Regions from separate parts of the Homo sapiens genome. Here regions 1, 3, 4 and 5 are each linked to region 2. Evidence: fine-mapped expression QTL. A gene starts in region 2. Each other region holds a variant in brackets. All regions are shown on one strand. Distances are from middle to middle.

Evidence for each region. PIP is the estimated chance that this variant, and not a neighbour inherited with it, causes the effect.
Region 1: its variant is fine-mapped to the expression of SPAG9 in monocytes after LPS (Fairfax 2014, PIP 0.91).
Region 3: its variant is fine-mapped to the expression of SPAG9 in tibial nerve (GTEx, PIP above 0.99). The same link has a PIP of 0.9 or more in blood mononuclear cells, subcutaneous fat, sun-exposed skin and thyroid.
Region 4: its variant is fine-mapped to the expression of SPAG9 in whole blood (TOPMed, PIP 0.96).
Region 5: its variant is fine-mapped to the expression of SPAG9 in whole blood (INTERVAL, PIP above 0.99).

The regions. Positions count from the first base shown.
Region 1 is chr17:50,961,266-50,967,638 of GRCh38, reverse strand. It overlaps SPAG9 (sperm associated antigen 9), which reads left to right. Exons shown (of 30, transcript NM_001130528.3): 30 at 1,252-5,465. The coding sequence ends at 1,367. Among named protein-coding and RNA genes, the nearest start is that of TOB1-AS1, 98 kb to the right of the region's middle. The variant A/G (reference allele first, on the strand shown) is at 3,656.
Region 2 is chr17:51,118,653-51,123,652 of GRCh38, reverse strand. It overlaps SPAG9 (sperm associated antigen 9), which reads left to right and starts at 2,785. Exons shown (of 30, transcript NM_001130528.3): 1 at 2,785-3,299. The coding sequence starts at 2,997. RefSeq lists enhancers at 1,434-1,693, 2,303-2,532, 2,049-2,863, 3,153-3,272 and silencers at 2,673-3,052, 3,303-3,382, 3,403-3,532.
Region 3 is chr17:50,974,284-50,980,656 of GRCh38, reverse strand. It overlaps SPAG9 (sperm associated antigen 9), which reads left to right. Exons shown (of 30, transcript NM_001130528.3): 26 at 740-911; 27 at 3,436-3,549; 28 at 5,710-5,886. Among named protein-coding and RNA genes, the nearest start is that of TOB1-AS1, 110 kb to the right of the region's middle. The variant A/G (reference allele first, on the strand shown) is at 3,579.
Region 4 is chr17:51,088,873-51,094,971 of GRCh38, reverse strand. The region is part of intron 1 of SPAG9 (sperm associated antigen 9); the gene reads left to right. Among named protein-coding and RNA genes, the nearest start is that of SPAG9, 29 kb to the left of the region's middle. RefSeq lists a silencer at 830-1,124. The variant A/G (reference allele first, on the strand shown) is at 2,276.
Region 5 is chr17:51,055,466-51,061,838 of GRCh38, reverse strand. It overlaps SPAG9 (sperm associated antigen 9), which reads left to right. Exons shown (of 30, transcript NM_001130528.3): 3 at 5,357-5,427. Among named protein-coding and RNA genes, the nearest start is that of SPAG9, 62 kb to the left of the region's middle. The variant C/G (reference allele first, on the strand shown) is at 3,707.

The sequences.
Region 1 (6,373 bases), 160 kb after region 2:
AATGGCGACAGCCTTTTGTCTCAGCCAGTTAATTTTTTTCATTGAAATTTTTTAAAATTTAAGAGCCAAACTTAATTTTTTTACCTTCTAACCACCTGGGTATGTTTCAGTTCAGAGATGGGAGTTTGAACTGAGTGTTCTCCTCTCTCTAGTTTGATATTGCTGTGAAAAGGCCATTACAGGGCTGGGTAAGGGAAAGTTTGGCCTGCAGAGAAAAATGCAGATATTTAGGGTTTTTTCTCTTCTGTTGTTTCTAGTCAACAGTATCAATATTTTCTTTTGTCCAGCTGAAATTCACATGGGGCACATTACAAAATTCTGTTAGATCAGTGGAATATATCTTTAGGTCCTGTGGTGTGTATGTTTTTAGGATTCTGCTGAAGAATCCATCCCACTAGACAACTTTTCACTGGGTTGTGCCAAAATAACCCTGCTCTGTGACAACAGATACAATTGATGCAAGCTTGTATCGAGAATTATGGTATGCCCTGCACTGGGTCTTATGGAGAGGAGTGTGGTGTACCCCAGACTGGGCCTTGGAAGCCAGTGTCTGATCAGGACACCATGGATCACATTCACTTAGCCGTGATGCAGAAGAACCTGTATCTTGGCTGCTACCCCAACCTCTTTGTTTCTCCTTTTCCATTATACACTGTTAATTTGTAACCTATCCTAAACTTGAAAATCATTGGAAGAAAAACCCAGTAGCTGGTGAATCTGCCATCTGCAGTGCTGCAGGCTAATTATTTTAATTTCCATATGCTTGTGTCAATTATCTTCAATTGGAGAACATTACACCTGTCATTGATAATTGTGAGTTATTTGGGTTTAGTTAGTTTGCTCTGTACCTGTGCTCACGCATTTTATAACACTATTCTCAGTTCTTAGTTTAAAATAAGTGACAGTAGACTCTTCATTTTGGATGAACACAGAATTGCCTTCTTAGCTTCCCATGTCTGGACCATCGGTATGCAGACATGTTGGGGTGGCTTTTTAACGTAGTATAGTGAACTGGATTTTATAAATACAGTCTGAAAAATGAATTAACCTTTTCTGAAGTCAAGCAGTGGCTTGGGTGAATATGGGTGAGGATTCTGACTCTTAGTATTTCTTCTACTATTTACTCTCCAGTGAAAGTCAGACAAGTTTTGGGCATCTTGTTCATGGACTAACCACGAGCATTACATCTGACTCACATCATTCTATATTTTATGTGTTCAGCCTAACTTGAGTCTTCTTATCATTCACTAGGTGATGAAGGTGGAGAATCAGAACTTCTTGGAGAGGATCTTCCACTTGAACCTTCTGTCACCAAAGCAGAAAGGAGTCACTTGATAGTGTGGCAAGTGATGTATGGCAATGAGTGAGCCCATGGGAAACAGGTGGAGATGGGGAAGCCGTCTCTTCTGCATGGTTTATTTTCCCTCTATCCTTTTATTTAATGCTCTTTTGTGAGATAAGTTTCACCACATAATGTGTGAGCATTTTTTCCTGTTAACTTTATATTACAAAATCCGTTCTACCATAACAATACAGAGGAACTAGCTGTGTTACTGCACCAGTGTTATAGGTAACTTCAGTATATTATGAACAAATCAAAGAATGTTTACTTCCTGCAAACTGGTGAATTATAGAAAGCAATCCAGATGTGGTTTACTCTGCCACAGTCTAATGTCATTCACTTCATTTGATGGGGTCACTTGTTAGCTGTCACTAATAATGGAATTAATGGGAAACACTTGATAAATGAAACTGTACCGTTAAATACAATAGCTGAGTTTTCCCCAGTGTATTGTAAAATTGACACACACTAATACAAGATGGATTATCAGGATGTATCTAAATGTCCCGAGAGGGTTAAAAGCTAACTGTAAATTACTTTAACTTTCACTTTCAAATCTGACAAATCTTGTTTATATGGTATATAAAACTTTGTTTTCATCAGATTTGGGGGGGTTTTATATTAAAGAAATTAAGACTACACTATTTAAATAAACGTTTCCTGTTTCTGACTTATTAGAGCTCTAAAGTTTATGAGGCCTACTTCTCTGAATATTCTGATGGGTTTTTTTTGAGACCAGTCTCATTTTCATACTGACATGTCTGAAAGATTTATTATTTATAAAGCTTAGGACATACTCTGGGAAGCTTAGAAGATACTTCAGCACTGGGAGGATTTTTTAAAGGAAATGTGTTTTGTATTTCTTGTACCAGAGAATGGTGATGTTGATTGAGTTTTTTCCATGTAAAAAATGTACTTGTTTGCCAAATGTTCCTAGATTGCTCTTAACCTGTTAATACAAGTAAAACTGTAGTGGGGATGGAGTCTGGCCTAAGTACAGAATGAGGGATTTAATTAGAAAAGTTATTTTCTTTTGTTCTGTATCAAACTGCAGAACAGCTATATACTTGGTATTTTGTACGTGAATAACGTTTTAGCTTTTGTGCCCTTTTGAGCTTGAAGGGTTATCCTCAAAGGGGAAAACTATGAAGGGGAAGAAGACAAACCTAAGATACCATAAAGTAAAGGTTGACATTACATATTTTCATTCACAATGCCCATTAAAAAAAAAAAATAGGTTGGGCATGGTGGCTCACGCCTGTAATCCCAACACTTTAGGAGGCTGAGGCAGATGGATTGCTTGAGCCCAGGAGTTCAAGACCAGCCTGGGCAACATGGCGAAACCCTGTCTCTACCAAAAAAAAAAAACAAAATAAATTAACCGGGTGTGGTGGCACATGCCTGTAGTCCCAGCTACTTGGGAGGCTGAGGTGGGAGGATGACCTGGGCCCAGGAGGTGGAGGTTGCAGTGAGCCTTGATAGCACCACTGCACTCCAGCCTGGGTGACGGAGCAAGACCCTGTCTCAAAACAGACAAACAAGCAAAAAATAGATTAAAGTCTGGATTTCACTGATTTTCTTGCTTAATAAGTTTTTTAAAACCACGATGCTGCAATTTTTTCCCTCTCAAGCTTCTTGAAAATGTGTGATTTACCCTTTTTTATCTATTACTCTAGGCAAAGCTAAATATGATTTTTTTTTTTTTTTTTGAGACGGAGTCTGGCTCTGTTGCCCAGGCTGGAATGCAGTGGTGCGATCTCAGCTCACTGCAACCTCCACCTCTCAGGTTCAAGTAGTTCTCCTGCCTCAGCCTCCCAAGTAGCTGGGATTACAGGTGTGTGCCACCCTGCCCAGCTAATTTTTGTATTTTTAGTAGAGACAGGGTTTCACCACATTGGCCAGGCTGGTCTCAAACTCCTGACCTCAGATGATCTACCCGCCTTGGCCTCCCGAAGTGCTTGAATTACAGGCGTGAGCCCCCGCGCCGGTCCGAAGCAAAGCTAAATGTAATTTTATGTACTGTTTTAACAGTATAAACCTATGGGATAAAGGCCCCCAATCATCAGAAGGACTACTGAAAAGAAAAGAAAGCAAACGTAGATGTCAAATTGTCTAAACATTCTTAAGTACCACTGATTTTTTTTTTCTGGACTATTATACAAAGATGTCTGTAAAAAGTATACCAGTGGCTTTTATGCATATACACGATTAGGCTAGATTGTGAAGTACATGGGATTTCATGAGCCAGAGGAGGCATTTGGATCCATTGGGCCACATGTGACTATAAGCACATTGTGTACACAATAAAATTGT[A/G]GCCACTCATGTATTAAAACTGTTTTGGTAAAAGCTGTATTAAAAGAATAATTTTTTGCTTGAGCTACTTAGTCACTTTTTTGCAGGGCACCAAAATGTAGGCTACTTTTCCATAGCTTGTTTGCTATGTTTTTATTTCATCTTAAATCTGAGCCATTTTTGGCAATATCTTTTAAAAAATCATTATTAAACATTTATTGGAAATGTTGTATAGATTCACAAGAAAGAGACACCAAAGTGTTTGGGAATTTTAATCCCAAGAAGTAAACATCCCAGAGTCAGATCCCATTTGCTGTTGTTCAGCCATGTTTGTATGACTGAATGTAATTTAGGAAATCAGGAGTTAGAGATGAAAAATACAAACATGTCAAATGGTTGTAATTGCTTTTTTTGAACTTACTGGCTTTAACTTAAGTAATATAGGTGTGTAGTTGTTTTATCTAAAGATGTCAGATTATCTGTGGCCCTGTTAATTAACTGCAGGGACCAGAGAGAGGACAAAAATGCCTGTATAATTTGCTTTAAAGGCTTGTCCTTATGTTTGTAATTTCAGTTAAATATTTTCTACAGATTGCTTCACTTCCCCTTTCCCCCAATAACAAGTTCATATTCTTGTAATGTTTACTTTGGTCAACGTGGTAATTTTTGGAAGAAAATGCCAAAATGTAAGCTTCTCACAAGCAGCAAAGGAATGTAACTGCCTGTAGCTACCACATCAAGGGAGAGAAGAGGCTTGCGTACTTTGGGTTGATCTCACTGTACAAAAAAAGTGTACCCCTATTGGAAGAAATAAGGAATACTTGAAGGTTTCTCCTTTTTTTACACTTGAGTCATGTGCAAGGTTGAACCATATGAAATTGCCAGTGTTCAACCATTGCTGATCTGCAAAAGCGACAATATCATATGCCTCAACCTAACACTTACTCTTAAATGCAGGTTAAAATCTCTGTGAGGCAAAGGGATAATATTCTCTAGGAACTCACTTTTGAGAGTATTTTTCTCTAACCCATGTGGATCTAAATTTTAAAAATAGGAATGAATCTCTTAATTGCAGCTTGTGGAGAGTATAAAACATTTTGAGCACAATATGCAGCACATAACTTTTCAGATTGTGTTTGCATAGAAAAGGTTAAAATCAATTCTTTCAGTTACTGTATTGTTCATTTCTTGTAAAGGTCTTCCTACATTTGAGACGAGACCCTTTAACATAGGCTGCCTTAGTAACAAAATAAAACAGATGTGTCATAATATTAACTGTCCTAAAGAACATGTGTCTTGCAAATGCCATGGAACTGAATATTTATTTCCTTGTGAGTATTATGACCGTTACCAAAGGACTCAACCAGATTTAGGGCTCTTCTTAATTGATCATGTTCAGAAAGGGACTCATTTGGTCCCACTTTGTAACATGGGAAGAGTAGAAGAGAAAATTAAATGTGGAAATCATAAATGCTTTTCTAACAGGGTTATGCTATTCTGTAACACTAAATGTCTGTCTTTTCTCTTAAAAGATTAAGTTTTATTAATTTTGTCATACATTTCTCTATTTGAATATATCTTAACCATTTTATGTTCCAAATTCGTTTTTTGTCCAAGACATTCTATCAGAATTTTACTTGCCTCTATAATCTGAAAAATGGGTTCTAGAATGTCCCACTTGCTGTCTCTTAGAGGCTGAGCTTCATTTCTATGAGCAAAGAGCTCATTTAGCAATGTAGTTATTTCAGTATTTATTTCTATTATGGAATCCCTGGGGTTCAGAATGTAACTTTGTACATGAGATATATATAAATATGTATATGAACATGTATGAGGTCTAGTGTGTTTTGTTTTGTTTTTACCGTTCCTGGGGATCTGAACTTGGTTTTTATTTGCAAGTCCAATAATCTTCCCCATCACACATGTCATTCCTGAGGGTCAGGACTGTTGCCATTTGGCACCAGCTAAAGGTGAGCAGTGGGGAACCCTCATGCTGGTCAGCTTGGCTCACGTGTTCAGGTGAGATATGAGAATAGACAAGAGGGCTTAGGAGAAATGTGGGATCCCTGAGTAACAGCCCACACATGATACTAAGGCATACTATTTGCCAAATTATTCAATAATAAGAGGCAGGGTGTAATGTAATTTTAACGCAGCGTGCTTATTTGTGATCCATTTGCTTGGGCAAGACTCGGGAAGGAAGAATGACTATAAAACTGATCATGTGGCAGCACAATGTGACTCCAGATTCAGTGCAGCGAGATTTAATCTCTTCCAGTGTGTTTTGTTTGTGCCTTCAAGAAACGTGGGGTTTTAACGTGATAGTAAAAGTTGCCCCAGTTGGCATGTTAATAGGACCATTCACTAGATGAAGGCATAGTCATCTGTTCAGTGAGGTTGGTTGCCCTAGAATACAATGACTAGGGCGGCTCATTCCTAGTTTTTATAGGACCTTACCCTGCCTGCCCCTTAGTCCCTGGGGAACAGGGCAGGAGCACCAGCCTCATCACTAGAACTGTAGTCTGCAGTGTCCCCCTTGTGGAAAAACTATCTTTCAGACTAGTGGAGAGAGACTGCTTCAGCCCCCAGGCTCTTCCTTAACCAGCCCCTGATCCCTCAGACTCAGTGTAGGCATGAAAGCCTAGAGATCACAAGGGGCCTGGACTTAATCTTCAGCAGCAGCCAATTTATTAGGAAAGGTTTTATAGTTAGGGGACTTCTCAGAATGCCTTAAATATT
Region 2 (5,000 bases):
TTTGCTCTTGTTGCCCAGGCTGGAGTGCAATGGCTCGATCTTGGCTCACCACAACCTCCGCCTCCCAGGTTCAAGCGATTCTCCTGCCTCAGCCTCCTGAGTAGCTAAGAATACAGGTGCGGGCCACCACGCCCGGCTAATTTTGTATTTTTAGTAGATACAGGGTTTCTCCATATTGGTCAGGCTGATCTTGAACATCTGACCTCTGACCTCAGGTGATCCGCCCGCCTCGACCTCCCAAAGTGCTGGGAGTACAGGTGTAAGCCACCGTGCCTGGCCAAAAAAAATTTTTTTTTTTTTTTTTGTCAGGGATGAAGGTCTCACTATGTTGCCCAGGCTGGTCTCCAACTCATGGCACAAGCCATCCTCTTGCAAGTGCTGAGATTACAGGCGCGAGCCACCACGCCTACTCCCCTCCCCTCCAACGACTTTCTTTTTATTGCCAAATAATAGTCCATTGTATACCTATGTCACATTTTATCCATTCATCAGCTGATGGTTATTTAGCTGAATTTTATTTTAACTAAATGTTATCTCTGATAACTGGCAGAAGCTTAAAATCAAGACATAAGTGTGTATCTTTCTATGTTGAACGTATACCTAAAGAAGTATACTTATTAGGAATGACAATTAAAATCTCGTACTTGAAAAATCGATACTTTTTTCTTTTTTCTTTTTTTTTTTGAGATGGAGTCTCACTCTGTCGCCCAGGCTGGAGTGCAATGGTGTGATCTCTGCTCACTGCAACCTCCGCCTCCCAGGTTCAAGCTATTCTCCTGCCTCAGCCTCTTGAGTAGCTGGGATTATAGGTGTGCACCACCATGCCCGACTAATTTTTGTACTTTTTAGTAGAAATGGGGTTTCACCATATTGTTCAGGCTGGTCTTGAACTCCTGACCTTGTGATCCACCCGCCTCGGCCTCCCAAAGTGCTGGGTTACAGGCATGAGTCACCACGCCCGGCTGATACTTTTTTCTTTAAATTTTTTGATGTGTATGATAATATTGTGGAAAGAAAAAGTAAAGCCTTGCCCTATGTTTTTTGGCTCTTCTGATCCCCCAGGAAAAGAGAGGCATGCATATAGGTAGACCAGGTGAGTGACAGCCCTCAGGAAGAGAAAATAAAAGAGGAGAGATTCAGATCAAGACTTTTTCTAGTTTTCAAATATGAAAGGTTAAGAAGAGAAAGGGCATTTGCGGCTCACAGCCAACCAGCTGGTCGGCATTCCTACTACCCAAATATCTAAATGACATAAGGGTGAATGTGGGGTGAGGGTGAGAACGGGAAAAAACACAGGCCGCAAATTCAGTCCCATCTGGCACTTCATAAGACTTAGTATTTTCATCTTTGTCCTTCCAAATTTATAGGTTTACTCTTGCCCAACCTTCATATTGTTTTTATGGGTCTCCAGGTGGGTCATGCGTAGGAAACTTTAGGGGACTACTTCATACTTGGTGGGAAGTACTTAAACTTGTAAACCCCAAGCTAAGGGTAGTTATGATCCCGGTGGGTGGCCAATTCTCCCCTTAAACCTATGTTTATCCTGCCTTTCCTCCCCCTTTTCTTAAACGAGTCGGGACGGAGAGCTGAGTCACCTGAGACACAGAGAAGGGACTTTTGAGAGTGTCTTCCGTCCCATTTGCGGACGTTAGATGAGCACACCGGGATCCTTGACTCAGCCCGCTCTAGGCGTGGGCGTTGTGTCATTCCCCACACGTGACACTCTCCCAGGCGGCAGAAACCTCACTTGTCATGGGACTTATTCACTCCAGTGACTCCACCCCTTACCTCCTCTGTTCCCCAACCTCCCACTTACCCTTTCCGCCCCACTTCAAGACTTGAGGAGAGGAGGGTGGCTGGAGCCTGGAAATGTCCCCGTCCCAAGTTGGCCAGAAGTAGCAGACACACTATGTGGGAAAGTGCCACATGTAACGTTCCAGTTTCACCCTTCTCCAGAATGCTATCACCCTTCCTGTTTATTTTTTAATAACTTGAGATATAATTCACACGCCATATGATTCACTCACTTAACGTGTAAAGTTGAATGTCTTTTAGCATATTTAGAGTTGTGTATTCATCACTATAATACATTTTTTAGAACATTTTTATTATCCCAAAACGAAATCCCATACCTATTAGCAGTCACTCCCATTTCCCCTCATCTCACCCTTGCTCTTCCATAGCACAAAACAGTTCTATTCTATTCGAGACCACCTTTCCACTTGGGCAGACCCTGGTTATGGTTTTTTTTCCCTCCCTTTCTGTTTCCAGTTTTTTTCGGAGCCCGGAATTCTCAATCTGGGTAATTGGTTTGAGTCCCGGCTCAGCCCGTTTCCCGTTGTAGCTGCGTGACCTTGAGAGCAACGCCACTTTCCTGGGCCTAGTTTCTTTGTCTGTGAAACGAGGTCCAAATATCTACCTCTTTACGCCTGTTGTGGGGATGAAGTGAGTAGGTGCTTTGTGAGCTTTAAAAAGCCATAGAAATGCCAGCTAAGTTAACTCGTCACTCTTCCCGAACCCCTCCCTTTCCCCTGGGACCCGCCCCGCGAATCCCGCTGTGGATGGATACTTCTCCCCACCCGCCGACCGCAGTCTTTCCCATTGGCGCCCGCACCGTCTTCGCGGCGCCGGGTGTTGACGCCATGGCTTCCTCCGCCAGCGCCCGAAGACGCTTGGCCCCGCCCCCGGCCGCGCCTGGCCTCCCGCGGCGCCCCGCCCATCGGGCCGACGCGGCGCCGGCCCCGCCCCGCGGATGACGTGTGGCGCGCGCGGCCGGGCCGCCCCGGCAGTTGGTGCAGCGGCGGTTGGGGTGAGAGCGCCTACGCCACCCCTCCCCTCCTCCGGCCCCGGCCCCCACCCCGCCGGGCCCAGCCCCAGCCCCGGCCCGGGCTCCAGCCCTAGTACCCGTCCCAGCCCGAGTCGGGTCCGTCCCGTGCGGGCAGGTGCCGCCCCTCTGCCGGCGACGCCCCGGGCCGCCCGCCCGTCCGCTTGCCACCATGGAGCTGGAGGACGGTGTGGTGTATCAGGAGGAGCCCGGCGGCTCCGGGGCCGTGATGTCGGAGCGGGTGTCCGGCCTGGCCGGCTCCATCTACCGCGAGTTCGAGCGGCTTATCGGGCGCTATGACGAGGAGGTGGTCAAAGAGCTGATGCCGCTGGTGGTGGCTGTGCTGGAGAACCTGGACTCGGTGTTCGCGCAGGACCAGGAGCACCAGGTGGAGCTGGAGCTGCTGCGGGACGACAACGAGCAGCTCATCACCCAGTACGAGCGGGAGAAGGCGCTGCGCAAGCACGCTGAGGAGGTGAGGCCGGCGGCAGGGCGGGGGCCGCGGGATCCGTCTCCGGGGGCGGCCGGGGCGGGGTCGCGGCCCGGTCGGGGACTAGAGGCGCGACGGGCCTCCTGGAGGGCGGGCCTGAGGCCGATGCCCCCTGGGACCGATCCCGGCGGCCTCCAGGTACCCCGGGAGCCAGGCCGGCGTTGGAAGCCGAGGCCGGCTACTGAGTGTCCTGGGAAGGGAGCGAGATGGAGGAGGCAGGGCCCGGGGAGGAAGCGGCAGCCTGGCCTGAGGACACCTGGGGTTGGCCAAGGGCGGAGATTGTTGGGTGTCTGGTTGCTTCTTGTTGAGGGAAGTTTCCGACCACCGTGGGATAGTCAGATGGCGGTTCAAAGTTTTACCCTTGGGGAGGGGGACACTTCTGCCCTGGATATGTAACTTCCGCTAGTTCCAGTACCTTTCCAGGGGGTTGCCTTGCTTTGGGAAGTTAGAGATCTCCCTCTTTCGGTCAGTTTCTTCTTGACGTTTTAATCTTGTTGAGAAAGACGTCTTATTTTATGTTCTATGTGCCTTGGTTGACACTTTGTCAACTTTTAGATGTTGTGTGGCAGTACTCAATAAATATATAAACAATTTCGTTGGTATCCCAAACCAAAGCATTCCTCCGTATCAGGTTGTAACCTTGGACAGTTCCCTTCAAAAACCCTCCGTTTATTTATAAAAAGGATTGGGGGGCGGGGTTGGGAAGATGTAGGTGACAGTTGGCAACACTTTTTCCGTCTGAGTTTCCTTCTTAGACTGCTGTTTATACGTGCATTTGGCCACCTGTTAACTCTAGCACCCGAGCAGTGACCTGGGCGCCCTCACCTCGACTCTGTGAACCTTTTGGAGTTCTAGGGTGCAAGTGATAGGTCCTTGGCTTCTTGAGACTGACAAGGAGTTTAGCTTTCAGCCTGCGTTGGCGTTATTTCTGTGGACCTTATCAAAGGCAGGTGATGTGTCCTATTTTTGTTTCTCAAGCACCTAGCACACCTGCTTAAATACATGGTGATCAAAGGAGGCGAAATAACTAATTATTGAAGGAATGACATAGTATTTTTCAAAAAGACTTGAAGAGTTTTTAGGATGTGAGGTTTGTAGCTCATTTCCTGACACTGAATAGTAACACCATTAAATTTTTGTTTTATTTTGTCACGTATACCTTTGCATCTGGTTAAATAGTTCTTTTTCCTTTTTTAAAAGCTTGACTGTAGTGATGATTTTTAGTTCTGATTGTGGGATCCAATTTTCTCAAAGGAATGCTATTGAATTTGCCAAACAAAATTGCCTTTTTTTTTTTTTTTTTTTGAGACGTAGTCTCACTCTGTCGCCCAGGGTGAAGTGCAGTGGAGTGATCTTGGCTCACTGCAACCTCTGCCTGCCGGGTTCAAGCGATTCTTGTGCCTCAGCTTCCTAAGGAGCTAGGACAACACTCCCCGCTCATTTTTGTTTTTTGTAGAGACAGGATTTCTCCATGGTGCCTAGGATGGTCTTGAACTCCTGGCCTCAAGTGATCTGCCCACTTTGGCCTCGGGCTGACCATCCCAGTGCTGGGATTACAGGCATGAGCCACCGCACCCCGCCAGAATGGACTATTTCAAGAGCTTTTCCTTTCATATAGGGAAGGAAGGGATGAAAAACCAAATAATGATAGGATCACAATTTCCGCTTGTTTGTTAGCACTCTTTA
Region 3 (6,373 bases), 140 kb after region 2:
TGTTCAAGAGATCCTCCCACCTCGGCCTTCCAAAGTGCTGGGATTACAGGTGTGAGCCACCAGCGCCCAGCCTGATTAATTATAATTGTGATCTTATTTCAACACAGTGGCTCTGCAACAACACAAAATCCGGAGATAAAATCTTTCTGTTAGGCCAGGTGCGGTGGCTCATGCTTGTAATCCCAGCACTTTGGAAGGCCGAGGTGGGCAGATCACTTGAGGTCAGGAGTTTGAGACCAGCCTGGCCAACATGATGAAAGCCTGTCTCTACTAAAAATACAAAAATTAGTCCGGCATGGTGGTGTGCGCCTATAATCCCGCTACTCAGGAGGCTGAGGAAGGAGAATCGCCTGAACCCAGGAAGGGGAGGTTGCAGTGAGCCGAGATTGCGCCATTGCACTCCAGCCTGGGCGACAAGAGTAAAGACTCTGTCTCAAAAATAAAAAATAAAGAAATAAAAAAAATCTTTCTGTTGAGCACTGTTACATAGTGTGGATGCGCTAGTATTGCTGTTATAAGGTGATATCCTATATAGTGCTGAAGTCCAATATCCCGTTCTTAGTTCTTTATTTTTTGCATTCCAGGATGAAAACAATTGTGTATATAAGAGTAATCATGTTTAATATATAATATTTGGGCTTGTCTTTTAATAGTCTGCTAACTTGTGCAAATTAGCACAGTTTTAAATATGAAATTCTATGTAGCAAAAGTAACTTTGTGATTGGACAATCTCTCCTAGAAATCTTTTGATGCACATCCCAGGAAGGAGAGCCAAGTGCGACAGCTTGCGTGGGTGGGGGATGGCGTGTGGGTCTCCATTCGCTTGGATTCTACGCTCCGTCTCTATCATGCACACACTTATCAACATCTACAGGATGTGGACATTGAGCCTTATGTAAGCAAAATGTTAGGTAAGCTTCCAACGCGTTTTATCTTTACCAGTCAAAGAGGGTGTTTTATTTTATCTATCTATGTGTTTATTGAAATGAGGTCTTGCTTTGTTGCCCAGGATGGAGTGCAGTGGCTATGCACAGGTGCAGTCATAGCACACTATAGCCTTGAACTCCTGGGCTCAAGCGATCCTCTCACCTCAGCCTCCGGAGTAGCTGGGACTGTAGGTAGGCACAGCCACCTCACCCAGTCCTTGTTTTTATTTTTAAATAGTCTAAAATGCTGGGTAGAACCAATGAATTAAGTTATCTCAGGAGTAGTGAACTTTTATCATTGAAAGTGTCAGACGTTTCAATCTACCTTACTCTTTTTTTTTTTTTTTTTTCTTTTTTTCAAGACGGGGTCTCACTCTGTCACCTAGGCTGGAGTGCAGTGGCACCATCACGGCTCACTGCAGCTTTGACTTCCTGGGCTCAAGTGATCCTCCCACCTCAGCCTTCCCAGTAGCTGGACAGGCCTGCACTATCATGTTGGCTACTTTTTTTTTTTTTTCCTGTAGAAATGAGGTTTCACTGTGTTGCCCAGGCTGGCCTTAAACTCCTGGGCTCAAGTGATTGGCCCAGACCTCAGCCTCCCAAAGTGCTGGTGTTACAGGCATGAGCCAATGCACCTGGCCCCTTATTGTTCTTGATGGAAAGTTGGGATCATTTTGGACTCCTCTTCTCTTATTTCCCACATCTAATCTGTCACTGGGAACTGTCAAGTCTGCCTCTAAAACTGTATTAAATCAGTTACTTCTTTATCTCTACCACTATCCTTTTACCCCCAGGCCTCCTAACTGGGCTCCCTGTTGCCACCCCAGTCTGTTCTCTGCCTAGTAACCAAGGTGCAGATATTACCTTCACACACCTCCACTGTTGCCTTTAGGTGAGGTGACATGACCAGGAGACCTTACATGTTCTCAAACACTCTCCTTGCTCATACCGACCCACAGCTCAGCAAGCTCCTTCCCATTTCAGGGTCCTCACATGTGCTGCTGTATCATCTACCTGGGAAGTTCTTCTTGGTCCCTTTTTACTTACTTAGCTTTCAGGTCATAGCCTAACTGTCATAATCAGGAGAGACCATTTAGGTCCTGTCATACTTTTTCTTCATGGGCTTATCATTATTGTGATCGTACCAGTCTTATGTGATTCTTGTTTATAATCTCTCCCCTACAGACCCTAAGCCCCGTGAAGATCAGGGACCATCATTGTCTTGTTCCCTGCTCTATCTTTAGCACCTGACCTAGTGTTATAATGATTATTAGAAATGTCATAAAGGATTCCTTTCATGAAAAATGATTGAACTGGATCAGTGGTTTTCAACCATTTAGAGTTACTGCCCTCAGAAAACCTTATTTCTAGCTATGTACCTTCTCCCTAGAATATATACACATGCAAACACAAACTAATTTCAGGGATCTACTTTGACTGGAGGTTAAAGGTTCCTAGGTTAGGCTGAATGGTAATTAAGCCTCCTTCTAACACTGTGATTCAGCGATCATGCCCTCAGTTCTTGTAAGTAGAACTTATGAGTACTAGTGTTGTCTTTCTTAAATGTATTACCTGCTCAATAAATTTGTCTTTCAAGTCACTGAAAATAAGATCAGTTGTAAAAATTAACTTGAAATACAAAAATGCGTTTGTTCTCCCTAAATTATTTGTGTATAATACTTAAAATGTTTAAACTGCTTTAGAACCTAAGTATATAAATGAGGGGAAAAGTATAGATTTTGTTTACAAAGATTTTTATCTGTGCAAAGAAAACTTAAGGGAAACCAGAACTTTTTCAGCTTATAAGATCAAAGGACACTTGATTTATCTGGGTTTGTTTGTTTTTAGAGACAAAGTCTTGGTCCGTTGCACAGGCTGGAGTGCAGTGGTTGGATCACAGTTCACAGCAGCCTCAAACTCCTGCGCTCAAGTGACCCTCCCACCTCAGCCTCCCACATAGCTGGGACTACAGGCATGTGCCACCATGCCTGGCTAATTTTTGTACTTTTTGTAGAGGTGAGGTCTGTTGCCCAGGTTGGTCTCAAACTCCTGGGATCAAGCAGTCATCCCACCTTGTAGGATCTACAGGAGTGAGCCACCGTGCCCTGCCAGTTTCACTGTTTTCTGTTGGGGTTTTTTGTTTTATGTGTTGGTTTGGTTTTACAGTTCCCTAAGTAAATCCTGTGTCACAGTTCCTGATGTATCCTATTTCCTGTGTACTTTTCTTCTAACTAATAATGTTATGTTACCCACTTTTAGGCTTTTCTTTTTCCATTAACCCTGAATTGTCAGATAGACAATAAGCCCCAATATGAGCTTACTTTGATGTGAACCTTCAGGAAACATCCATCTAGCTCTAGTCACATTTCCTCTGTGTTGTATCAATCCTGCTACTACTACTTTCTTTCTTTTTTTTTTGTTTTGTAATCCTGCTACTTCTAAGGAACTTGGAATGTAAAACACTGTCTGCTTTAGTTTCTCAATAACGTGTTCCCTCCTTTCTTTACAGGTACTGGAAAACTGGGCTTCTCTTTTGTGAGAATTACAGCTCTTATGGTGTCTTGTAATCGTTTGTGGGTGGGGACAGGAAATGGTGTCATTATCTCCATCCCATTGACAGAAAGTAAGTATATTTTTAGATAACTGCCATGG[A/G]ACAAATAGGAGAATTATAGGAAATAGTTATGTCTGAAATTCAAATCTGTGTTAGCTCAGAAAATCAGTGATGGCAAAGATCTAGCTATAGTTACTTCACTCAATGAAACTTATAAATTCTAGGAAAATAAGTTTTCATGTATCAAGACCAATACTCATAATTAAAAGTTTTTCGTTGTCAAAACATTTTCACAGTTCAGGAATCACAGTCCTATTTCATCTTTTGAAATAAAAGTTAAAGTCCATTTTTCTTAAGCCTTATTATACCATTATCCAAAAACACTACCTAGCATTCATCTTAGTTTTTCATATCTCCTTAGCAGATAGTTTAGTATATTCCATTTGTCTTATTTGAGGTTTAAAAAAAGTTGTGGAAGAAGTTTCTCAGGAGTTCAGCAAGCCTTTCCATCTATCTTCTATTTTAAAAGAATGTGATTTATTGTTTTTATGAATAAAATATACCTCGTGTGTTTCTCATATGATGTTCCATTACATTAATCATCCATTAAGTAAATGTTTTTGTGTTGCAAAATTCATGGCAGGGAATGGTTTAAAAGCAAATACTGTAAGTCTATAAAATACATTAATACATATACACTTCAAAATCACCATACCTTTTTTCAGGCCAGAGGAGGGAGAAAGACTAGAAGGTATTTCGGAAGCCTTTAAAAGAAAGCAAGGTTTCAATCCCACCTGTCTTTTCTGCAGTTACTTATAAATCATATTTAGACCTCTCCTTATATCCTAAGAGATTCCAGGATCCCCTAGAGTTCATTTCAGTTATTTGTAAGAGCTTCATTTTAGCATAGTTATTGGAACAGGATTTGTTTTTTAAAACACACACACACAGAGAAATAAAGGAGAAATTTTAGCATTTAGGAAATGCTGCACATTGAGTTCTTAGTGTTTTGATTCAGATTCACTAAAATTGCTTTATTATTTAAAAAAAAAACACCATAAATCAGATTTTCCTTTTTCAGCAGAGATTCTAATAGAAGCCTTGGGAAGAACTTTATGTATTACTTGGTATTATGCCAAGTGGGATCTTGTTATTTTCGTTAGGGGCTTTGAGCACCAGGTTTACCAGATAGAAGACGCTGAGAGTGGTGGCTCACAGTAATTCTCTCCTCCCTGTCATGCACCTCTCCATGTCCCCTTTCCTCCTTTCTCACTTTAGCCGTAATCCTCCACCAGGGACGTTTACTGGGGCTGAGGGGTAAGTGCAGATTCTGAACCAAACTCTTCTTCCTGGCTTCTAATAGCCACTGTAAGGCTGTTACCACTCCTCTAGAATACCCTCTTGAATGTTCCTAAATGTTATCCACTTGCAGTCACTGCATCGCAGCAGGTGTCTTTTTTTTTTTTTTAATGTTTGTTACATGGCCACCAAACTGCTCAGCAGCTTAGTCTATTTATCATCTTTTGTTGCAGCTGAACTTTCTTTCAGACTTTGTTTTCCTTCCAGTATAAACATGAAACATCTCTTAAAGCTGTCATTAATTTACATCGTTTACTCTTGTTACCGATCATATTTCTTTCATTTACTTACTTGCCCATGGAATGGGGATGTTTTGTGAGTCTGGTCTTTTACAGTACGCAGCACACCATCAGTCTGGTATCAATAAAAGCTGCTCTATTGTAGTGGCTGGATTCTTGTAAGCACAACTTTTTACCAACCCCCTCAAGGGAAATATTCTTACTGTGAGGGAGAAAAATCAGAAGATAAACTATAAAGAAAGACTTTATTTGCAAATATACCCATTTACTTTAAACTGTATAATGGTTAGTTTTCTAACATGTGCATTAAAAACAAAACAAGAAACAACTAAGATTCAAATTTGTTTTTTTTTTAACTAAAATTATTTTTTAAATGAATAGATGTGTTTAAAAAATAAGCTTACTTATTGCTAGACTGGCAAAATCCCCTACTCCATTTACTGAGGTACTTAAAAATAACTAGCATGCTGTATCTCTTTTTTTCCCAGCTTTGTCTTGAATTGGCATTGCCATCCTTGTTTTATCTCAACTGGCTGTAGCTTTTAGATAATATCATAAGGATTAACCAGTAACCTCTTACATTCATTACTGTTTTCTAGGGGAAAATATTTGGTATTTGGTTTTTCTGTTGCAGCAAATAAAACCTCAGGTGTACCAGGAAATCGTCCTGGAAGTGTAATCCGTGTATATGGTGATGAAAACAGTGATAAAGTGACTCCAGGGACATTTATACCCTATTGTTCAATGGCACATGCACAGCTTTGCTTCCATGGGCACCGGGATGCTGTGAAATTCTTTGTGGCAGTCCCAGGTATGTTAGATTATTCTGTTGAGATGTTCCATGTAATTGTCTCTCTTCTGTCATCTCTTGGTTCCACTACCTAATAGTCTAAGGCTAAGTACTCGAATTGCAGGTAATTTCAATATATACGAAGGAAGTTCTGTAATGGAGGTGTGACTAAGGTGCTATAGGGATACTTGAATGAAGTTACTTTGGAATATCTCTCCCACCCCCAAAGATAAATTTGTTGATTTTTCTTTAGGAGACTTGCTTACTTTTGAAAAGCAGTAGTATTATTTTATCATCGTGGATTGCCAAAAATGGTCTTGACCTAATAAGAGAAATCACTAGAAAGAAGCTTCTATCATCAAGGCTGCATGGAGGAAGAGAGAATGCACTCTGGTACCTTTAGCAGCTTAATAGGAAAAAGCAGTGAACTAGGAGGCCTGGGGGTCTGGCCCCTGTGTCTCTGCCACTAACCTCGAGCAAGGCACTTAACCTCAGAGACTCATTTCCT
Region 4 (6,099 bases), 29 kb after region 2:
AGTGTGCTTGAGCATGTTTTACATTTACTGGTGATTCTACTTCTCTGTGAATTGCCTATTCAGTTTCATTCACTGATAACTGGCACAAACTATGTCTGGAAGTACATAGCTATATATTTTTAATGGTTTTATAGTATTCCATTATAGGATCATCACTTAGGTGAAAAGGATCATTACTTGGGGAATCCAGAGTTTAAAAGAGACTTAAGAGATATATTATCCAAATGTAATGTATGAACCTTGTTTGGATCTTGAGTGTAAAAACATATATGAGACAACCTGGAAAACTGGATATTCCTTATTATATCATTAGGGGTTGGGAAATGGTGCTATTTCAATCCAGTTATTCCTTCAACATTTATCAGCTAAATTTTCTTGTAAAGGAAACTTCCCCTCATCAACTGTTTGGTTACCCTAAGGTATAGTTTGTATATAAGAAAGACAAAAAGTGCTGGATTCGTCAATTCATACTTTAATAATTTCCAAGTGCTCTTTCCTGTTTTGTTTCCCTCCTCACTACTTTTAAAAATAGCATACTATTCTGGTTCCATGGGAGCAATGACTTTTCTTTGGTCTCTGAGTATATTAATTATAGTTTTCATTTGTTCCCTGCTTTGTCTGTTTTGTCAGAGTCCCATTTTTATTTCTTATAGTTTTGGTTTCTCTCTTTCAGGCTAGAACTTAAAGTGCCTTATAATTCTTAATTATCCTTCATGTTTTAAAAGTGAGACACTAAAAAAGGAGGGTTGGAAGCTTTGTGTGCCTGGATACAGTTTACTGCCTCTTGGCAACCCAGATTTCAATATCCCATGGTCCTTTCGTAGAGACACTTGAGTTTTTCCAGAGAAGGATAGTCTCTTTGAGGTGTGGCTGGTGGAGTGGTAGGTAAGCCTAGATATTTACATTATTGCAACCTGGATGAAGGCAGGAAGGAGGCCCTATTACTGTTTAGTACGTAGACTTTAGACCTTCATGTAATTCCACTTGTCATTTGGCACCTGCCTGGCTGTGCCTAGAGTGTTCCTAGTCTAAAATTTCTGGTTGAGTTTATTGAGAAAACAAACCTCTTATTTCCTGTGTGGGTGAGCAAGGAAGGCCACCTGGCCAGTCTGGTGTGGGACTGTCTACCTACTAGGGATATTACTAACTAGTGATTTTAGACTTCCACTCAACCCTCCTGTTTTCAGTCCCACCCTCACACACCACACCAGTTTTCTATTACATACTTTCCATAGTATGGATCTGTTATAATTTTCTTTTTTTTTTTTTTTTTTTTTGAGACGGAGTCTTGCTCTGTCGCCCAGGCTGGAGTGCAGTGGCGCAATCTCGGCTCACTGTGAGCTCCATCTCCTGGGTTCACGCCATTCTCCTGCCTCAGCCTCCCGAGTAGCAGGGACTAGAGGCACCCGCCACCACGCCTGGCTGATTTTTTTAGTAGAGACGGGGTTTCACCATGTTAGCCAGGACGGTCTCGATCTCCTGACTTTGTGATCCACCCGCCTCAGCCTCCCAAAGTGCAGGGATTACAGGCGTGAGCCACCATGCCTGGCCAGATCTATTATAATTTTCTTATCCACTGTCTGTTGATAGACATTTAAGTTATCTTCCAGTTGTGAACTGTTACAAATAGCCCTTCAATGAATGTCTTTGTACATGCCCCTTTCTGCATATTTGCTTTTTAATGGCAGGACAAACTTTTTTCATATTAAACACCACTGATACTTTTATTCCAATAATTTATTTTCATTTTTTTGTTTTTTTTAAAAAGAGGGTTTTGCTATTTTGCCTAGGCTTGTCTCGAACTCCTGAGCTCAAGCAATCTGTCCACCTCAGCCTCCCAAAGTGCTGGGATTACAAGCATGAGCCACTATGCCTGGCCAACTTTTTTTTTTTTTTTTTTTTACAGAAATATCTAAACATTGATGATTACCGAGAATAGTAGAATATATTTGAACTCCCATATACCCATCATTCAACTTCAGCAGTTACCAACAAAATGCCAATATTTTTTCTTTAGAAAAAAAAATTTTTTAAGAGACATTTGCTTGCTCTGTAGCCCAGGCAGGCGTGCAGTGGTGTGATCATAGCTCACTGCAGCTTAGAACTCCTGGGCTAAAGCAATCCTCCCAGTTTAGCTTCCTGAGTAGCTAGAACTACAGGTGTCTGCCACCACGTCCAGCTAAATTTTTCTTTTTCTTTTTTTCTTTTTTTTTTTTTTTTGTAGAGACAAGGGTCTCTCTATGTTCCCCAGGCTGTTCTCAAACTCTCGGCCTCA[A/G]GTGATCTTCCCACCTTTGCCTCCCAAAGCACTGAGATTACAGGCGTGAGCCACTGTGCCTGGCCAAACCAATTTTTCACCATAATATTAAGGCAGACCAAAGACTATATCATTGTATCTTTAGGAGATAGGGCTGTTTAACAAATATAACCACAACACCATTAACACATCTAAAACTTATAAACAATTACTCTTTAATAATATTTAATACTTAATAAGTGTTCATATTTCCCTAATTGTCTCTTAAATGTAGTTTTGTAGTTGGTTGTTTTCAATCAGTATCTAAACAAGAGAGTCTATACATTTATACTTGGTTCAATATGTCTCAAGTTCCTCTTTATATAATGGTTCTTTTTTTCTTTTTTTCCCCACTTGACATTTATTGTAGAAGAAACCAAATCATTTGTGTTAAAAAATTTTCCACATTTTGGACTTGGAAGGGATTATATCCCTTGAGTGTTATTTAATATGGTCTTCAATCCTGTCTTATTTCTTAAAAGAAATTACATTTAAAAACAATTACATTTAACTAATTAATATAATATCTTGATGGACACTTAATAAGCCAGCCCTTTATTTGATACTATTTTTTAGACAAGTACTATAGTCAAAGTATTTAAATGGCTATTCTTTTTCTTTTCTTTCTTTTTTCTTCTGCATCTTTACTCCAACAAGCAACAACCTTTAGGGAATTTTTTTTTTTTTTTTTTTTAACTTTGGGAGCTTGTCTTTTCAAAGTATTCATTTGTTTTTCCCCAGAACAGTGGGGCGAAACAGTCCCTATAAGCCATCTGGACTTAAAAGCATTTTGCTTCATCACAAAGCTTACTCTTTTTAGATCCTGACATAAGTCTGTATTGTCCACTGATTTTTTTTTTTTTAACGGTGTCTAGTTGCTCCCAGGAGAGTTGTCTGAAGTCACTTTAATGTTGTTGCTGGCCTATTAGTTATTGAAAGGGAAGAGGGGTATTTAGTGAAGATGTGTTATTATACCTGCTGAAAAAGCTCATTCACAGGCCCTTAATCCCCCTAGTCCTTAAAAAAAAGTGGGTATGTGTGTGAGAAAAACAGAAAAGGGGAGGAGTATGTGCGTTTCATACCAACATACCTGAGTGATCTGACAAATGCTTGTGCTGAGGGGACTCTCTGGAATTTCCAGGGCTAATGTGGTTTTATAATATGCAAACAACAACAACAACAACAAAAAAACAGAAAAACAAACAAAAAAAACTGCTGCGCTTCTCCTGCCACGATTTTGCTGTTGGCCTAACCCTATCGTGGTTATTCTAAGGTTTGCCAAGCGTAGTAGAGGGTGACCAACTTATAAAGTCATGCCACTGGCAAGCAATTAAGTCACATTAAATCATTAATGACTATCCTAGACTTTTTATGAGCATTCATTTCCTTTTTTTTTTTTTTTTTTGTATACAGGGTCTTGATCCGTCGCTCAGGCTGGAGTGCAGTGGCTCACTCTCAGCTCACTGCAACCTCTGCCTCCTGGGCTTGGTGATCCCCTCCCACCTCAGCCTTTGAGTAGCTGGGACTACAGATGCACACCACTACACCAGGCTAATTTTCATATTTTTCGTGGAGACAGGGTTTCGTGGAGACAGAGTCATATTGCCCAGGCTGGTGTCGAACTCCTGAGCTTGAGTGATGAGCCCTCCTTGGCCTCCCAAAGTGCTGGGATTATACAAGCATGAGCCACCGTGCCTGGCCTGTGCTTTTTCTTGTTCACATATGTAATTTCAGTGTGGTTACATTATATGCAGACTTGAACTATGTGATTTTTAAAAGTTTCATTTCATATTCAGAGTTTGAAATGTTACCTTCTCATTTCAGAAAGTCTTCAGAAATCATGTTATATGAAAGCCTGACTGAGCTGTAAACCAATGTTGTGCTGTTATCCTATGTTGGTATTACCTAGGCAGTAACAGAAATATCAGCCATCTCTTATCAGCCTTAACCTCAATTAGGTGACTGTTGAATTATGCAAGATCTTTTGTAAATCGATCTTTTTTATAAAATGTAATTACCCATGATTAAGACCTTTCATCTTCTGTTAAATTTCAATCAATAGAACATAGGGCTCTCTTGTAACTTACTACATTTCCCAGTACCTTGGAATATTTAAAACAATAGGGGCTCAAGTTGTGTTTTGAAAAGATGGATGAATGTAATCTTTTTTTTTGAGATGGAGTCTTGCTCTGTTGCCCAGGCTGGACTCGGCTCACTGCAACCTCTGCCTCCCAGGTTCAAGCAATTCTCCTGTCTCAGCCTCCCCAGTACCTGGGATTACAGGCATCTGCCACCACACCTGGCTAATTTTTGTATTTTTAGTAGAGATGGGGTTTTGCCATGTTGGCCAGGCTGGTCTTGAATTCCTGACCTCATGATCTGCTTGCCTCGGCCTCCCAAAAATGCTGGGATTACAGGCTTGAGCCACCGCACCTGGCCAAGTGGAATCTTACTTGTCTTTTTTACTCGCTTTGTGAATCAGAGAGATTCTCAACTTATTCTTTAGTTTATAGTTTACCTTTACATCGACTCAAAATTTAATGGTGAATTGTAGTTACCTGGGCATGCCATGATCTTTAGACGTTTGCATGTGCTGTGACCTCTGCCTGGAATGTCTTTATCTCAGTAAAGGTTTTAGGCAAACCATTCCTTTTAGAGTAAGCTAAAATGACTTCTCTCTTTTTTAAAAAAATAGTATATATGGCCGGGCACGGTGGCTCACGCCTGTAATCCAGCACTTTGGGAGGCTAAGGCAGGTGGATCACCTGAGGTCAGGAGTTCGAGACCAGCCTGGCCAACATGGTGAAACCTTGTCTCTACTAAAAATACAAAAAATTAGCTGGGCATGGTGGTGGGTGCCTGTAATCCCAGCCACTCGTGAGGCTGAGGCAGGGAGAATTGCTTGAATCTGGTAGGCAGAGGTTGCAGGGAGCCAAGATCATGCCACTGCACTCCAGCCTGGGTCACAGAGCGAGACTCCATATCAAAAAAAAGAAAGTGTGTGTGTGTATGTGTATATATATATATATATATATATATATATATATATATATATATAAAATAAAGTGTATATATATACATATAATAAGTAGATATACACATATATATTATAATTATATATATATAATTTTATTTCAATATTTTTTGGGGAACAGGTAGTTTTTGGTTACATGGATAAGTTCTTTAGTGGTGATTTCCGAGATTTCGGTGCACCTGTCGACTTCTTTTTTGTTTGTTTGTTTTTTTGTTTTTTTGAGACAGAGTTTCACTCTTGTTGCCCAGGCTGGAGTGCAATGGCACAGTCTCACCTCAGTGCAACCTCTACCTCTTGGGTTCAAGTGATTCTCCTGCCTCAGCCTTCCAAGTAGCTGGGATTACAGGTGCCCACCACCAGGCTCAGCTAATTTTTGTATTTTTAGTAGAGACAGGGCTTTACCATGTTGGCTAGGCTGGTCTCGAACTCCTGACCTCAGGTGGTCCACCTGCCTCGGCCTCCCAAAGTGCTAGGATTACAGGCATGAGCCACCGTGCCTGGCCCAACTTCTGTTTTTTTTTTGTGTGTGTGTGTTTTGTTTTGTTTTGTTTTTGAGACAGAATCTCCCTCTGTTGCTCAAGCTGGAGTGCAGTGGCGCAATCTCGCTCACCGCAACCCCTGCCTACCAGGTTCAAGTGATTCTCCTGCCTCAGCCTTCCGAGTAGCTGGGACTACAGGCGGGTGCCACCTCGCCTGGCTAATTTTAGTATTTTTAGTAGATGCGGGGTTGCACCATGTTGGCCAGAGTGGTCTCCATCTCTTGACCACATGA
Region 5 (6,373 bases), 63 kb after region 2:
AGCTGTGAATGGAGGCTGAAGGAATTAATGATAGAAATAATTCAAAATGCTTAAGGAGAACAAAATGATTACTAGAACTTTAAGGAATTTTTATGGATGAACCTAAGCTTATGTGAACAATGGTCATATTCATTTAGATAAATATTGGAAATCTCCCAAAATTAATGGTATATTCTGTTATATGTCTCCTTCCCACAAGCCTTTTTTTTTTTTTTTTTTTTTTTTTGGAGACAGAGCTTTCGCTCTTGTTGCCCAGACTAGAGTGCAATGTTGTGATCTCACCTCACTGCAACCTCCACCTCCCAGGTTAAAGTGATTCTCCTGCCTCAGCCTTCTGAGTAGCTAGGATTACAGGCGTGCACCACCATGCCCAGCTAATTTTTGTAGTATTAGTAGAGGGGTTTCACCATGTTGGCCAGGCTGGTCTCGAACTGCTGACCTCAGGTGATCAGCCCGCCTTGGCCTCCCACAGTGCTGGGATTACAAGTTTGAGCCACCGCTCCTGGCCTAATCTCACTATTAAGTGGTGTACATTTGACACAAAGCAATGCAAACAAATTGATTAGGAAACTGGCATAAAATCAGTCAGGACCTGACTTTGTTTTGTGGCATTATAATGTTTTGTTCTGTAAGGTATAAACCCAGCTCTCTGACCAAGTCAGTTGACAAACATCTTATATAAAAGCTTCTCTCGGTGGGGCGCGGTGGCTTACGCCTGTAATCCTAGCACTTTGGGAGGCCGAGGTGGGTGGATCACGAGGTCAGGAGATCGAGACCATCCTGACCAACATGGTGAAACCCCATCTCTACTAAAAATACAAAAATTAGCTGGATGTGGTGGTGCACGCCTATAGTCCCAGCTACTCAGGGAGGCTGAGGCAGGAGAATCGCTTCAACCAGGGAGGTGGAGGTTGCAGTGAGCTGAGATCGCACCATTGCACTCCAGCCTGGGGACAGAGTGAGACTCTGTCTCAAGGAAAAAAAAAAAAAACAAAAAAAACCCTTTTCTCTGAGGTTTGCTTAATGGTATAAGTCAGCTAGGGCCGCCATAACAAAATATTACAGACTGGGTGGCTTCAATAGCAGAAATTTATTTCTCACAGTCTGGAGGCTGGAAATCTGAGATCCATGGTACAAGCAGATTTGGTTTCTCCTGAGGCCTTTCTCCTTGGCTTGCAGGTGGCTGCTTTACCTCTGTGTCCTAATATGGCCTTTTGCCTATCTCTTGCTGTTATAAGGATACCAGCCCTGTTGGATCAGGGCCCCACCTTAATGACCTCATTCAACCTTAATTACCTACCTTCTTCTGCCTTTTTTTTTTTTTTTTTTTTTTAAAAAGACAAAGTCCCGCTCTGTCACCGAGGCTGGAGTGCAGTGGTACAGTCTCAGCTCACGGCAACCTCCATCTCCCAGATTCAAGCGATCCTCCTGCCTCAGCCTCCCGAGTAGCTGGGATTACTGCTATTTGCCATGACGCCTGGCTAATTTTTGTATTTTTAGTAGAAACAGGGTTTCACCATGTTGGCCAGGCTGGTCTCGAACTCTTGCCCAGGTAATCCACCTGCCTCGGCCTCCCAAAGTGCTGGGATTACAGGTGTGAGCCACCTCGCCCGGCCCTTAATTATCTTCTTAAAGGCCCTATCCCCCAAATGCAGTCATATTGGGAGGTAGAGCTTCAACCTATGAATTTGGGGGGTGAGGGAGCACAATTCAGTCCATAATAGGTCAGGAGATAAGAGTTCTCTGTGGGGATGGGAAGCAAAGAGTGTTGTGACTTGACAATCAGATCCAGAAAAGTCTTACAGACCATTGTAAGAATTTTTTTTTCCTTTTAAAAATGAGATCGGAAGCTTTGAAGTTTTGAGCGGTTAGTCACTGTTTGATTCCATCTCTATTTTGAGAATGTAGGGAACAAAGACTAAGTAGAGAAACTAGTCAGGAGACTAGGATTATTATTGTAATAACCTAAGCAAGAGATGATGTCTTGGGTCAAAGTGAGAGTGATGAAGGTGGTAAAAGTGGTGAGATTCTGGTTTTTGGTTTGTTTGTTTGTTTGTTTGTTTGTTTTTTGAGATGGAGTCACACTCTGTCGCCAGGCTGGAGTTGCAGTGGCGCAATCTTGTCTCACTGCAACCTCTGCCTCACTGCAACCTCTGCCTCCTGGGTTCAAGCGATTCTCCTGCCTCAGCCTCCCAAGTAGCTGGAATTATAGGCATGCACCACCACGCCCAGCTAGTTTTTGTATTTTTAGTAGAGATGGGGTTTCACCATGTTGGCCAGGCTGTTCTCGAACTTCTGACCTTGTGATCCGCCCACCTCGGCTCTCAAAGTGCTGGGATTACAGGCGTGACCCACCAAATTTTCTTTATCCAGTCTATTCGGTAACATTTTTGTTCTCTCCCTGAGAATGCTACAGTCAGAGCAATAAAGCTTGTTTGTTATGGTTCTGAATAGTTTGTTTAAATCCCATTCTACATGTTGAACTCATAGCCATTGTAGGATAACATAAGGAAGAATGAGTATTCAAGCAGAGGAAAGTGCCTGTGTGAATGGATGCACATCGTGTTTGAACTGAGGTGGGCTGGGGCTATACAGGCATAAATACATCAGATCACTGACTCCTCCCCAGAGGTAACTACTATCCTGACTTGTAACATTTCAGATTAGTTTTGTGTTATGTCTTTGAATTTTGTATTCTTTTGTTTCTGCTTCTTTCCTTCAATATCATATTTGTGCTATTGGTCCATGATGTTGTGTGTGGCAATAATTTGTTTATTCACGTTGTACAGTATTCCAGTACATGAATATTTATCCATTCTACTCTTGATGGACAGTTGGATTGTTTTCAGATTGTGCTTCTTTGAACATTGTTTTAAATACCTTTGGGTGGACATATATATAGGCTTTCTAGCAATGACATTGTTTTGTGATAGGGTTGGCAAACATTCGAAACTTAACTAAATCTTGCCAAACAGTTCTTAAATTGGGCATACCAAGTTACGGTGTATGAAACCATACACCACAGTTTATGAAAGTTCCAGTAGTTCCACATCCATACTGGCACTTGGTGTGTTGTGTTTTTCACTGTAGCCATTCAGAAGCATGGTGGTGTTGCATTTTGGTTTTAATGTGCATCTCCCTGACTTGGGTACACATTTTGCTTGGCAGTTTGATGCCCTTTGTATCAAAGTATCTGTGAATGGGTTGTTTCTGTAAGAACAGAGGAGTTTTTTGTTTGAAGCATACTCCCCTCTGCCCAAAGTGATATCTTAAAGTAAACTCCAATATACAAAACAGATTAAAATGAGTATTTGCTGAGAAGCAGTATAGCATGGTAATTAAGAACACAGATTCTGGAGCCAGATTCTGATAGGAATCCTTGCTTTGCCATTTTCTATCTGTGTGACTTTGGGCAAGTTACTTAGCTCCTATTTGCTTCAGTTTCCTCATCTCTACCATGGATGTAATAATAATACTTTCATCGTAAGGTTAATGTTAGGCTCAAATAAGTTAGTTTATATGCAGTTCTTAGGACTGTATGGTACATAGTAAGCACTTGATGTTGTTGGCTGCTATTAGTAGTGGTGGTGTTGGTGATACAAATTTATTTATGAATTTATATCAGCTGACAAGAATAATAAGGCTCTACTATTGAGCACAAATTTGAAATTGAGGATTATGAATGATAGTTGGATTTTATTTCAGC[C/G]TCAGCATCCAATTTTTGTTTTTGTTGCACATTATCAAGAAAATAATGATTCAAAAAGATGAACAATTGAAAATAGATATGGTTTGTCCAGTAGTCTCAGAATTCCTTTAAGCTTTTAATCAGTTTAAATGACAAGTAGTAGAAAATGTTTATTTTGAAATTATTAAATATCCATAATTTGCTTGGATTTCCTGTTTTTAAATAAAAATCATAGAATTAAATTTTATTAAAAATTAATTTGTGGTTTTAGCATCTATTATTTTATCACAACACATCTGCATAATAAATTTGCTTATTATCGCTTTCAGCCACAGGATAAGATGAGCAGCAGATGTATTCAACACTTGTGTGGCATGATAAAATGTGCTCCGTGGGTACTGTAGTGTGTGTTTGCTCTCTGGTGCAAATGTAATGAGCCAGCGACACATAAGCTTGAATTAGAAACAAATCAAAACAAAGACAGCTACAGTTTTCCTAATCACATATTTTCAAGATATTTAAACAAATTATGGCAAGTAAAGGTACACAAACCCAAAATGAATTTTCTGGGCAGCACAAGGTATGTTTTGTTTGGTGTCTGGTGTGTTAATACTAGGAGGCATATAAAACATTCATTTATCTGCTGTCAGAATATTAGTTCATACTAGTTCCTTCTACAGCTGTCCTCCACAGTCACCAGTTGTAGATTACACACAGCCTTGCCTGTTTGCGGCCAGCTGACCCTTAAACCCAGGGAACATTTTCAACTATGCTAAGGCTTTCCAACAGACTAAATGAGTACCCTGATAAACTCCTCTAGCACCAGCTTTATTTCTCCCCAGACTGTCTCCCACTGCTCCTTAGCCAAGTATGGGCTCCTCCAGTCTGGCCAGTCTCCCCTCTGCCTCACCACCACCCTCTGCCTCACCACAGGCATGGTTTTGTGTTCCCTTCTCTGTGGTAACAGTGTCAGGAATGCTCTCATTACCATCTGTCTTGAGTACTGTAATTTCTTCCTTTGTGGTTCTGTGTGGACACCACCTCCTCCCTGAATCATTCCTCTTTGCTATCAGTTATTCTTTCCTGTGGAATCCTGTCCTGACATTCTGTATCTCAGGATCTATTAATAAAACTTTTTTTTTTTAAATATCCTGAAGTTGTACTCTGTGAGCACTACCTCAAGTCAGTGCCACTCACAAAACCCATCAGCAGAGGGAGCTAAATAAAAGAAGATGAGTCCCTGAAATTGAGGAGACCTGAAGCAGAAAAAGTACTTATAAACAATCAACTTTCACAAACTGCCAGTGCTAAAGAGCTTGAGTAGTGTTGGAAATACATTATTTGGGCCCTAATCCCAGTTTAAAACTTTGATGAGGTGATTTGTGTTTTTGAAAGAGTTAATTCTGTATCATGTTAAAAAAAAAACTGTTTAGGGGGATGACCTGATAAATATAGGAATATTAGAGAACCAATCTAAGGTATTCCGCTCGTCTGAAAGTTTTCATTATTAAGGATAATGAAATGAGGTCACTGCTTTGTGAAGACTTGCATATGGAACACTGAGTCTGAAAGTTGCTAAGGATTATGGATAGCCCATTCTGAGTCTAACATGTACTTTTTCAAGTAAATTTCTTATTTTGTTTTGATCAAGTGTATGTATCTTAATTTCAGTTAGCAGACTTGAAGAAAGAGAAGCAGAACTGAAGAAGGAATATAATGCATTACATCAAAGACACACTGAGGTGGGTTTCTAGGTTTTTCATTACCATGCTATTATTGAGACAAAGAAATGAACCTTAGAAAATATGTCTTAATTTTTCTTTGAAAATCAGAATTTTTTAAAAAAGAATAATTCTTGGGGATTCTTTCAAGAAAACATTAAATTTCATGTGGCATTTACCTAGTTACCAAATGTCAACTTTTCTTGGAATTAGCTTTTCATGGGGTGAATTAGTATGCTACAGAATAATTTAGTTATTTAAGGCAGCTATAGTACTTCTCTCCTTGGCTGGCTAAGCAAAAACCTATGTGCACATAATGAAGTTTCTGTGATGCTTAGATGAGAGAACTGATTTGTTTTTTTATGAGTTTGGAAATTATGGATTGGTAAGTTATTGGTAAAGGGTCTCTACATCTATTATCCATTGTAAAGGACTTATTTGCATTAAGCTCATAACAAATAATATAAGCACAAATTATAATGTGTTAAAATAACTCAAAAGTAGGTTTTTTGCATGAGTTTTCAGTATTTTAAATTAACAGTTTCAGCACAGTCTCCTCAAAGGAAATTAGAAAATGTACTTGAGGGTTTTTTAACCTTTTTATGATTCCCTGTCAGCCTTTCATGTTGCTTTTGTTTCTGTTATCTTAATGTGAAAATTATTTTTGTATGTCATGGTCAGTCTGGGTTTCACATACCCAGATAAATATAATTTTTATAGTTTTATACAATATTTGTTACATGAAAAAAATAATTCCTCTCTCTTTCCCCTTGCTAGTCCTATATTTCCCATGATACATATGGTTCCAGTCTTAGCCCGTTTTTTTGTTTGTTTTTTTTTCTCCCTAGTTTGTGTGATCTCTTATCCTGCGTCTGGTAGAAACTATGTTGTTGTTTTTCTTTAGAAGAGTATAAAAACCTTTATAATCTATAATCATAAAACAATTTAAAATCATGTTTTGGAGAAT